Regions from separate parts of the Homo sapiens genome. Here region 2 is linked to region 1. The links come from fine-mapping of genetic effects on gene expression. Tissue or cell type: whole blood. Region 1 holds a variant in brackets; the other region holds the start of a gene. All regions are shown on one strand. Distances are from middle to middle.

Evidence for each region. PIP is the estimated chance that this variant, and not a neighbour inherited with it, causes the effect. A credible set is the group of variants that fine-mapping cannot tell apart.
Region 2: NOXRED1 starts here. The variant in region 1 is the best candidate, but not a certain one, in a credible set for the expression of NOXRED1 in whole blood (INTERVAL, PIP 0.72).

What each region holds. Positions count from the first base shown.
Region 1 is chr14:77,555,422-77,560,802 of GRCh38, reverse strand. It overlaps SPTLC2 (serine palmitoyltransferase long chain base subunit 2), which reads left to right. Exons shown (of 12, transcript NM_004863.4): 7 at 3,657-3,762; 8 at 5,284-5,381. Among named protein-coding and RNA genes, the nearest start is that of SPTLC2, 59 kb to the left of the region's middle. The variant A/G (reference allele first, on the strand shown) is at 2,698.
Region 2 is chr14:77,421,294-77,426,674 of GRCh38, reverse strand. NOXRED1 (NADP dependent oxidoreductase domain containing 1) reads left to right here and starts at 3,152. Exons shown (of 6, transcript NM_001113475.3): 1 at 3,152-3,940. The coding sequence starts at 3,786.

The DNA of each region.
Region 1 (5,381 bases):
TAGCTCCCACTTACAAGTGAGAATATGTGGTATTTGGTTTTCTGTTCCTGTATTAGTTTGCTTAGGGTAATGGCTTCTAGCTGCATCCATGTTGCTGCAAAGGACATGATCTCATTCTTTCTTATGGCTACATAGTATTCCATGGTGTATATGTACATATATATATATATATTTTTATTTTTATTTTTGAGACAGAGTCTTGCTCTGTCTCCCAGGCTGGCATGCATTGGCATGAACTCAGCTCACTGCAACCTCTACCTCCCCAGCTCAACCGATCCTCCCATCTCAGCCACCCTAGTAGCTGGGACTACAGATGTGTTCCACCACGCCCGGCCAAGTTTTTTGTTTTTTGTTTTTTGTGTTTTCTTTTTGTATTTTTTGTAAAGATGGGGTTTCACCATGTTGCCCAGGCTGGTCTTGAACTCCTGGGCTCAAGCAATCCACCCACCTTGGCCTCCCAGTACTGGGATTATAGGCATAAGCCACCACGCCTGGCCCACATTTTTTTAATCCAGTCTACTGTTGATGGACATTTAGATTGATCCTATGTCTTTGCTGTTGTGAATAGTGCTACAATGAACATACACATGCTTGCATCTTGTATGAATTTTTCCTCAACAACATGAGATTGACTGTTCCTACTCACTGGCCAACATAGGCTATGGTGAATCATTTTAAATCTTTCCAAATCTAATGAGGAAATAATATGTTAGTTTTTATTTCATTGCTTATTAGATATAGAACAACTTTTTGCATTTTTACTGTTTTTTTAACTCTACTTGTAAGCTAATGTGTTTGTATTTCTTTATAAATTGGCCATTTTCAAATTGTTTCTATTTTTTACTGATTATAAGAGCCCTTTATATTAATTATCTTTTCCTTTATGTTGCATTATTTTATTATTATTTTTTTGAGACAGGGTCTTGCTGCATCACCCAGGCTGGAGTGAAGTAGCAGAACCACAACTCACCACAGCCTTGACCTCCTAGGTTCAAATGATTCTCCTGCCTCAGTCTCCTGAGTAGCTAGGACTGTAGGCATCCACCACCATGCCGGACTAGTGTTTTTTATTTTTTATAGAGACAAAGTCTCGCTGTGTTGCCCAGGTTGGTCTTGAACTCTTAGGCTGAAACGATCCTGCTGTCTCAGCCTCCCAAAATGCTGGGATTACAGGAGTGATTCACCATGCCCAGACTGCACTATTTTTATATTTTTGACTTTGTTTTCAGTGTCTTCCTGTACAGACTCATGAAAATGTTTTTGTTGCCACACTTACTGTTTTACGACTTTCGGATTTTACACAATACCCTCCTCATTCTCAGATCATAATGTTATTCTTTCATGTTTTCTTCTGGGAGTTTTGCGATATATTTTTTATTTAAATTTATGTGGAATTTGGGGGCATAACATTGGAGAGATTGAATTTTTTTTTCTAAGTAGATAATATGGTTAAGCATTCTGCTATAGGTATTTCTTTTTTTTGAAACAGTCTTGCTCTGTCACCCAGGCTGGAGGGCAGTGGCGTGATCTTGGCTCACTGCAACCTCCGTCTCCTGGGTTTAAGCGATTCTCATGTCTCAGCCTCCCAAGTAGCTGGAATTACAGGTGCCCACCACCACAACCGGCTAATTTTTTTTGTATTTTTAGTAGAGACAGGGTTTTGCCATGTTGGTCAGTCTGGTCTCGAACTCCTGACCTTAAGCGATTCACCCGCCTCGGTCTCCCAAAGTGCTAAGATTACAGGCGTGAGCCACCACACCTGGCTGATGCTTCTTTTATCTAAAATTTTGACCAGTATTATTTTTCTCCTCCTTCTATATATAAACAGAGAAAACTAAAATAATTCCTGTGTTTTTACTTGTCTTCAGCTGATCGCCATACATTGCTCTCTGCCTAAGAACTGGAGGCTTTGCAGGACTTGGGGAGGCCAAGGAGGGCAGATCACCTGAGGTCAGGAGTTCAAGACCAGCCTGGCCAAAATGGTGAAACCCCACCTCTACTAAAAATACAAAAATTAGCTGGATGTGGTGGCATGCACCTGTAATCCCAGCTACTCAGGAGGCTGAGGCTGGAGAATCACTTGAATCCAGGAGGCGGAGGTTTCAGTGAGCAGAGATCACGCCACTGCACTCCTGCCTTGGCGACAGAGCAAGACTCTGTCTCAAAAAAAAAAAAACAAAAAAACTGGAGGCTTTGAGTCAGGACGTAATTTACTTCTGTAGGGAACATCTCCTGAATCTTGATTAGGTCGTATGCAGATTTTTTTCTTAGAAATTACTGAATGTGTAAGCACAGTCACAACCTTAGACTATCTTATTTGTGTTTGTGTTCTGTGTTTTTATTACCTTATCTCTTTTTCTGTCAAAATTGTTTTCTGCAAAGAGCAAAATCATGTACTTTTATAACTCCTTCCTCCAGTTACAAGCAATACAGAATACAAAATCAGATTTTATGATAGGGCCAGGCGTGGTGCTCACGCCTGTAATCCCAGCACTTTGGGAGGCCGAGGCAGGCGGATCACCTGAGGTCAGAAGTTCAAGACAAGCCTGGCCAACATGGTGAAACCCCGTCTCTACAAAAGTACAAAATTAGCCTGGCGTGATGGCGGGTGCTGGTAATCCGAGCTACTTGGGAGGCTGAGGCAGGAGAATTGCTTGAACCTTGGAGGTGGAGGCCTCAGTGAGGAGAGATCACACC[A/G]TTGCACTCCAGCTTGGATGACAGAGGGAGACTCCATCTCAAAAAAAAAAAAAAGATTTTATGATAGGATGTCTCCCACCCCTATTAAGTATTCCCCAGACTTAATGTTGCTTAAATTTGGGGGAGTTTTTTTTAAGGACTTCATTTCAGGGCAGGTATTTTAAGTATGAAATCTGTAGTGTGGCAACAATGGTCTTCAAAGCATTTGTCTTTAACAAGGAAATTATGATCATCATTAATGGCAGTAGCAGCCAAGTTGTTTCCAGGCCCATTAACCACCATAAGAACCAACAGAGCCACAAGAACTTGGTTGTTTATGGACAACTGATGAAGTCAAACATGGAACAATTTCAACTGATTGTCAGGCTTGCTTAACACACAGACTTATACATGCCCCAGACGGGTGTATTTTTAACCCAGTACCAAAATAAAACTCTTTAACAAGCGTTTATTGAGTACGTCCTGGGTGAAAGGAAATGGAGCACGCACTGTGAAGTTTTTTTACGCCTTGCGTTTGTTTTTTTAGGAGGAGTATGTGTCTGTGATGGTTTATTCACACTCTCTCGCTCTGTCTTTTTTACGCATTTATTTCCGAATGACTCACTGGGATTAGAGATACAGTTTGATTCTGTATTTTTCGATAAACACACAGAAGCTAACTTAATGGCAGGGTATTTAACATGAGACACTGGTCATTTTATAAGGAAGCTAATGAACTGAGTTAGCCACCACCGTCCTTTAGTCAAGTTTCGATGGTTTTGAACATTTGTTACATTTTGGATTTCAATTCAAGGTGGCAATAATTCACCTATTTTGCCCTGCTTTTTTCTGCCCAACTCTAATTATGTCCTTTGCTATCTGAGGCATGGTTTCTGAATGAGAAATATATCTCTGCATTTCCGGAATAAAGTTAGGAAAGAGGAAGATGCGGTATAACTGTTCTTTTTTGTGCTCTGTAGATATGCAAAGCCTAGAGAAGCTATTGAAAGATGCCATTGTTTATGGTCAGCCTCGGACACGAAGGCCCTGGAAGAAAATTCTCATCCTTGTGGAAGGAATATATAGGTAATCCTGCTTTATTATTCTTACCTTTGTGACTTGGCCCCATGAAGTCATAGAATTTTTTAACTGAAGGGAACATTAGTCTATCCCCCTCTGGAAACTAAGGAGACAGTGTTTATAAGTCGCTAAAATACCTGGAAACAGAGTCAGCATTAGAACAGAAGTCTTTTTGTCTAGTTCTTCGTTATTCTTTCCATAATACTACATGGTCACCAAATCCCCTTTCTATTTGAGTCTTTTATTTTTCTAGTTTGTAGAGGGAACCTATATGTAGGGGCAAGAATTGGAATATATATTTTAATATGTCAAAACAAATTACACACCATTTAATTTTAATAAATATTTTATTTTAGGCTGAGTGCAGTGGCTCACGCCTGTAATCCCAACACTTTGGGAGGCAAAAGTGGGAGGTCGCTCGAGGCCAGGAATTTGAGACCAGCTTGGGCAACATAGTGAGACCCTGTCTCTGTAAAAAATAAATAAAAATTAAAAAGAAATATTTTATTTTGGTTAACCTTTACAGCTTTTACACGTATTTTTACCACCTAATTTTTTTTGTTCTTTTGTGTCATTTTAATTGCCTGTGCAACGTGATGCAAAGTCTCATGTTGCCTGTAATTACAAGCTTTAGAAGAATCTGCTGTGACCTTAATTATTTTTGTCGTGAATTAAGATTGCTTGTGTTTGGTGCTTGTTTTTTGTTTTTTGGTGGTTTGGGTGGCTTTTTTTTTAAGATGGAATCTCGCTGTGTCACCCAGGCTGGAGTGCAGTGGCGGGATGTCGGCTCACTGCAACCTCCGCTTCCCGGTTCTCCTGCCTTAGCCTCCCGAGTAGCTGGGATTACAGGTGTGTGCCACCAAGCCCAGCTAATTTTTGTATTTTTAGTAGAGACGGGGTTTCACTGTGTTGGCCGGGCTGGTCTCGAACTCCTGACCTCAAGTGATCCGCCTACCTCAGCCCACCAAAGTGCTGGGATTACAGGTGTGAGCCACCGCGCCCAGCCAGTGCTTGTTTTAAAAGTCCAGTTTTCTTTCCCCTAGTCTTTTGCCTTGCCATGGCTTCATCTACCTTTGTCAGTTTAAGCCACAGATACAGTTGTCAGACCATTTAAAACCCAATAAACTCAGCCGGGCAGGGTGGCTTATTCCTGTAACCCCAGAACTGTGGGAGGCCAAGGCGGGTGTATCACTTGAGGCCAGGAGTTCGAGACTAGCCTGGGAAACATGAGGAAACCCTATCTCTACTAAAAATACAAACATTATCTGGGCGTGGTGGTGGCGGGCACCTCTAGTCCCAGCTACTTGGGAGGCTGAGGCACAAGAATCGCTTGAACCCAGGAGTCAGGGATTGTAGTAAGCCGAGATTATGCCACTGCACTTCAGCCTGGACAATGGAGCAAAACTCTGTCCCAAGAAAAAAAAAAGAAGCAGTAAACTCAATAATAATGAAGTGCCAAACTCCCAATTTTGATTTAAAAAGTCTCAGTGTATATGTGTATATATATATTTTTTCATGTTTTGCCAGCATGGAGGGATCTATTGTTCGTCTTCCTGAAGTGATTGCCCTCAAGAAGAAATACAAGGCATACTTGTATCTGGATGAGGCTCACAGCATTGGCGCCC
Region 2 (5,381 bases), 130 kb after region 1:
TCTCCCGCTCCTGGTGGTTTTGTGTAGAATGATGAAATAATTGCTCAGGATCTTAGGATCATTACAAGTCTTCCTCAGTGACTGCATTTAGCAGCCTGTCGGCACATGTCAGGTTATAGAGTAACAGTGCTATGGCAAAGCAGGGCTGTGTGGTTAACAGAAACAGCACGGTGCTGGGAGACACAAGACCTGACTTTTTCCAGCTCTACCACTAAATAGTTATGTGATGCTGGGTGAGTCCCTTTCTTTCTCTGGATTCATTAGATAATCTAAAATTTTGTAGAGTTTGTTTGTTTGTGAGATGGTGTCTCGCTCTGTCGCCCAGGCTGGAGTGCAGTGGCGCTCTCAGCTCACTGCAACCTCCACCTCCCAGGTTCAGATGATTCTCCTGCCTCAGCCTCCCAAGTAGCTGGGATTACAGGCACCTGCCACCACGCCCAGCTAATTTTTGTATTTTTAGTAGAGACAGGGTTTCGCCATGTTGGCCAGGCTGGTCTCAAACTCCTGACCTCAGTTGATCCGCCTGCCTTGGCCTCCCAAAGTGCTGGGATTATAGGCATGAGCCACCGCACCCGGCCTGTTTTTTTAAATAGACATGGTCTGTCACCCAGGCTGGAGTGCAGCGGCACCGTCATGGCTCACTGCAGCCTTGACATCCCAGACTCAAGCAATCTTCCTGCTTCAGCCTCCTGAGTAGCTGGGACTACAGGCACGTGCCACCACACCCAGCTAACATTTTGTAGAGTTCTGTGCTCCTGTGACTGTGGAGTGGGTGAAGTCATAGAAGGCAAAGAGAAGATGCTCCTACAGAGGCACATGCCATGCCTTAAGGCAATATGGCTCTCAACTGGAGGCAGTTTTGCCCCTCAAGAGACATTTGGCAATGTTCGAAGTTGCTTTCTGTTGCCACACTAGGCGTGCTACTGGCATCCAGTGGGTAGAGGTCAGGGACGCTGCTAAACGCCCTACAATCCACAGGACAGCCCCACAACAAAGGATTATCCTGCCCACATGTTAGCAACACCAGTGTTGAGAAACTGCTTTAAGGGGATCAGACTCCATCTTTTGCTCCTCCACTTTGCAATTCCAGGTAACCTCATATTTAGTTCCTTTCTTGATCATCCTTCTTGCTATTGAAGAAACAAGAGTTTAATTTGCTAGATTGTACTAAAATTATTGGTTCATCTTCAAACAAACAGTGGTTACTTTATTAACTAGTATATTGGTTAGGGTTCATTTAGAGAAGCAGAACCACTAGGCATATATATGCATTATCTAATCTAATCTAATCTAATCTATATCTGCTGTTTGTTAGAGAATTTTGACCTTTCTCTGACCTGTTTAGAGAAATTGGATGAGAAGTACCGAGGAGTAGAGCCTGTCTTTTCTGTTTGAGTACTTCCACTCAAGTATGGCAGCTGGAGGGTGTGTTTAACGTAGTTGTCTTCATGTCCAGTGGTAGAGCTTGAAATCCATAGGGAAGGCCGTGAAGAAGGGAAGATCATTATAAAGTGAGTGAGCAGGGACAAGCTAGAAACCATGAGAAGGGACTGGGACCCATGTCAGTTCTCACAGCCTCAAACCTTGATGAGGTGGGTGTCCCGCTGCTGGAAAAGCTAGTGGCCTTTGTCATGGAAATGAAAAACACCTGGCCCAGGAGTGAGCAACTGAAGAAGGAACCAGGGAAGATGTAGCAGTTACAGGCCCAACTGTTGCCCCTCACCAACAAGGTACTCAGCAGATAAACAACAACATGTGTGAACTACAAAAGTACTTCCCCTGATTATGCACACTGAAACACAGACTGGTTACTGTTCATTTCCACCCTCCTGATCTTGCATAGAAATATCTCTGGTGGTCCACCTTAACTGGAAACATACAGGGAAGGACATTCTGGAAATTGCAGTTCAGCCTAGCCAAGGTGACATAATACAAAATATAACAACTGATCCCCACTTTTGAGAATGCATAAGTAAAGGATAGGCCTAGAATTCATGTCTGTACAACTTGTATGCTGCATTGGTCATGCTAATCTAGGTTTTGAGCTTCTTTTTCCTTCGGAGCAGGAAGCATTACTTGGCAACATTAGGATGACCTACTGACTGTTTTGGTGTAAGAAAATGTTTCTTAGGTTTGATGAGAACGTCCATGCCCCTCATTTCAAGTGCAGAGACTTTGCTTTTACTTTATTTTATTTTTTATTTTTTTGAGATGGAGTCTCCCTCTGCCGCCCAGGCTGGAGTACAATGGCGCAATCTCAGCTCACTGCAACCAACGTCCATCTCCCAGGTTCAAGCAATTCTCCTGCCTCAGCCTCCTGAGTAGCTGAGATTACAGACGTGCCACCACACCCAGCTAATAAGTAGCTGCCACCATGCCCAGCTTTTTAGTAGAGATGGGGTTTCACCGTGTTAGTCAGGCTGGTCAAACTCCTGACCTCAAGCGATCCGCCTGCCTCGGCCTCCCAAAGTGCTGCGATTACAGGCGTGAGCCACCACGCCAGGGTGAGACTTTGCTTTTAAAGAGATGGTGTCGTCATATAACAGCCTTCCTATAAAAGGGATTAGAGAAGCCAGACACAAAAGGTCACATATTGTATGATTCCATTTATATAAAATATCTGGAATAGGTAAATCCATTCAGACAGAAAGCAGATTGGTGGTTCCAGAGGCTGAGGGTGGGGAGGGATAGGGAGTAACTGCTTAATGGGTGTAGGCGTTCCTTTTGGGAATATGAAAGTATTTTGCAACAAGATAGAGGTGGTGGCACAACATTCTGAATGTACTGATGAATTGTTCACTTTAAAATGGCTAATTTTATGTTATGTGGATTTCACCTGAAAAAATTTTATTGGTTTCTTGAACACAAAAAGAAGGAGTTGTAAACTAACTCAAGTAGTGCTAAGATCTGTAAGATATTCTAGTCTGCAAAAAAAACCCCTAGAAATCCAGAATCTTCTGTTGGGAAAAGGAGGGTCTCATACTGCTCTAGTGTAGTACTCCTAGAAATAGTGGAAGGAACTCATGTCCTGATACGCAGCTCAGGAAAACCTCTAAGTGGGGCTGGCCTCTTTAAGACTTAGAGACTGTAATCTGGTAGTTAAGGAGTCATAATCACAAGTTTCTTGGTAATTCTCCTTAGAAATGTAGTTCTTACCTTCCAGGATCAGAAGTACTGAGGAGCAGAGCCAATCTTCTCTGTTTGGTGATAGATATATGTAGATGGGTTTATATGACTTTGAGTTTAGTTTGTAAAATCTAGATGTCCCTGCCCTAGACAGGGGACAATGATATTTAGTTTGGGTTATTTTGTACCCTGTGGAGAACAGAGTTTAGTGAAAGGGAAGCATTTCTTTGAAATGTGGTTCTATGTGTTCAGTCCTATTTCCAAAACGCAGGAGGGAATGGAAGGGAAAACGTCCTGGCCCAAGAATACCTGTAAAACTCAATTGCTGTTGTAAATTCATCTGCCGAAAACAGTGCCTGTAACCTGTGTGGAGAAACAATACTTTGGGTTTCTGTACAGGTTTTTCATGAGTCCAGGATTCATGGGCAGCCAGTGATTAGGAATCCTCAAACACTCACACTCTAGAGTGTGAATTCAAGAGAGGTGAATTCCAAATTCAGAATCTGGGAGTAGAGAGGTGCTGAAGCCCATCATCATGAGTGCTTGTGACCTGGGCACACACACCATCATACACACACCTCCTACATAGACCCCTCTTCTACCGGGACAGGGAGCCAAATTGATTAGTGTCTATCACTGCAGGAAATAGTGGCTTGGAAATGGACATGCTCCAGGACCTTGAGTCCCTGCAGTTTGAGTATGGGGTTCCAGAGGAAGATCGTATCTGGCTGTATTTGCAGGGCCGTTCTCGGGGACTGATGATCGAGGCTTGTGCCCATGCAACCTTCTTCTGCAAACTATTATATAATTTGAGGTAAGCCGAGTATCCAAATTCAGGAAGATGGACAAGAATCTCACTGCTGAGAATTCAAATGTCTTAAATTTTTTTTATATTGGAGGGTAAGTTTGGCTGGTGGATTGTCATCCTATCTTTTCCAACCCAGAGTCAATGACTCCTGGTCTAAAAGGACAGGAAAATCTATACCAGGGTCCCCTGGCTGTGGTTACATAATAAAGCATGGATTAGTAGTGATTACCTTTTAGTGGATGGATTGATTAAATGATCATTTATTCATCCATTCACTCAGTCATCATGACCACCAGCTTGCCCTCCACAGTTGCTAATGTCTAGCCATTCCTTATCTATTGGCAAGGAATGCAAATGGAATCAGTTCTTTCTTTTGGGGCTGAGGTAATAGTGGAATGCTCCCTTACAGGAAGCTACCCGGGACTTCACAGGCCCTGTGCCAGTGACTTCCTTGAAACCAGGAATATTGATTTGCAGAAAAGCTGTCAGTCCAGTCTTGATTCTGATATCTTTCTACAATATGGCTTCAGACACTTAAATAGGAAATGTGTGTGAAGCAGGTACCTATAATTAGGCTTCTGAATTCTGCAACTCCAGGTCACTCTGGGAGCATATGTCACCTCCTCACTCTACTTCTTAGTTTTTCTCTGAAGTTAGATTAATTCCTAGATGGTGGGACCAAATTTGAATTGAACATGTTTATAGATACAGCACATGTCCAAGGAGGCAGGCTTCTCAGTGAATTTACTGACTGGCTTACTGATAAGGATGCATAAACCTATTGGTGGTACTCAATATGACTGGGAGAAAACAATATATGAAACTTGCAGGTGGCATTTTATATTTGGAAGGATCAGGCACTAAGAGAAAATGCTCTTTCAACCAGGAGAGAAGGCTTAAATAGAGAGTGACTTATGTTGCTTAGAAGCAAAATCCAGAGCTTTAAGACACTGGTTTTTACAGAAATACAGAACAAATATAAGGCTGTCATATAGCAACGAAAGTATACCTTATGTATTCAGAAGTCTGACTTTGTTAATCTTGCGCCAAGGAAACACATCCAGCACCAACAGTAAGTGAACCTCTGGAAATAGTGGTCTGAAATCTTCATCCTTAGTTTCTCAGTTCTGTTCTTTTTTGTTTTGTTTTTGTAGTTTAAAGTTGTACCCTGAATGAACACTGTTTTGTTTTTATAAACCATTTATGTGTATAAGTCATAACCTTCTTAAAAAGCCAAGTTATCTGGTTTCTCAAGTCTGCAGATTTGAAATAGCAAACTAGAAAGAGTGGGTGTATCGTAGGAAAGGAATGCACTCACATCTAATAGCAATAAAAATTGACATCTGTCTCAGATTGGTATCAGTAAGATGAAGAAATAGGAAGCTCCAGACTCTGTAACCTCGAGACACTAACTTAACAACAATATATGGTCCAAAAAGCCTTTATG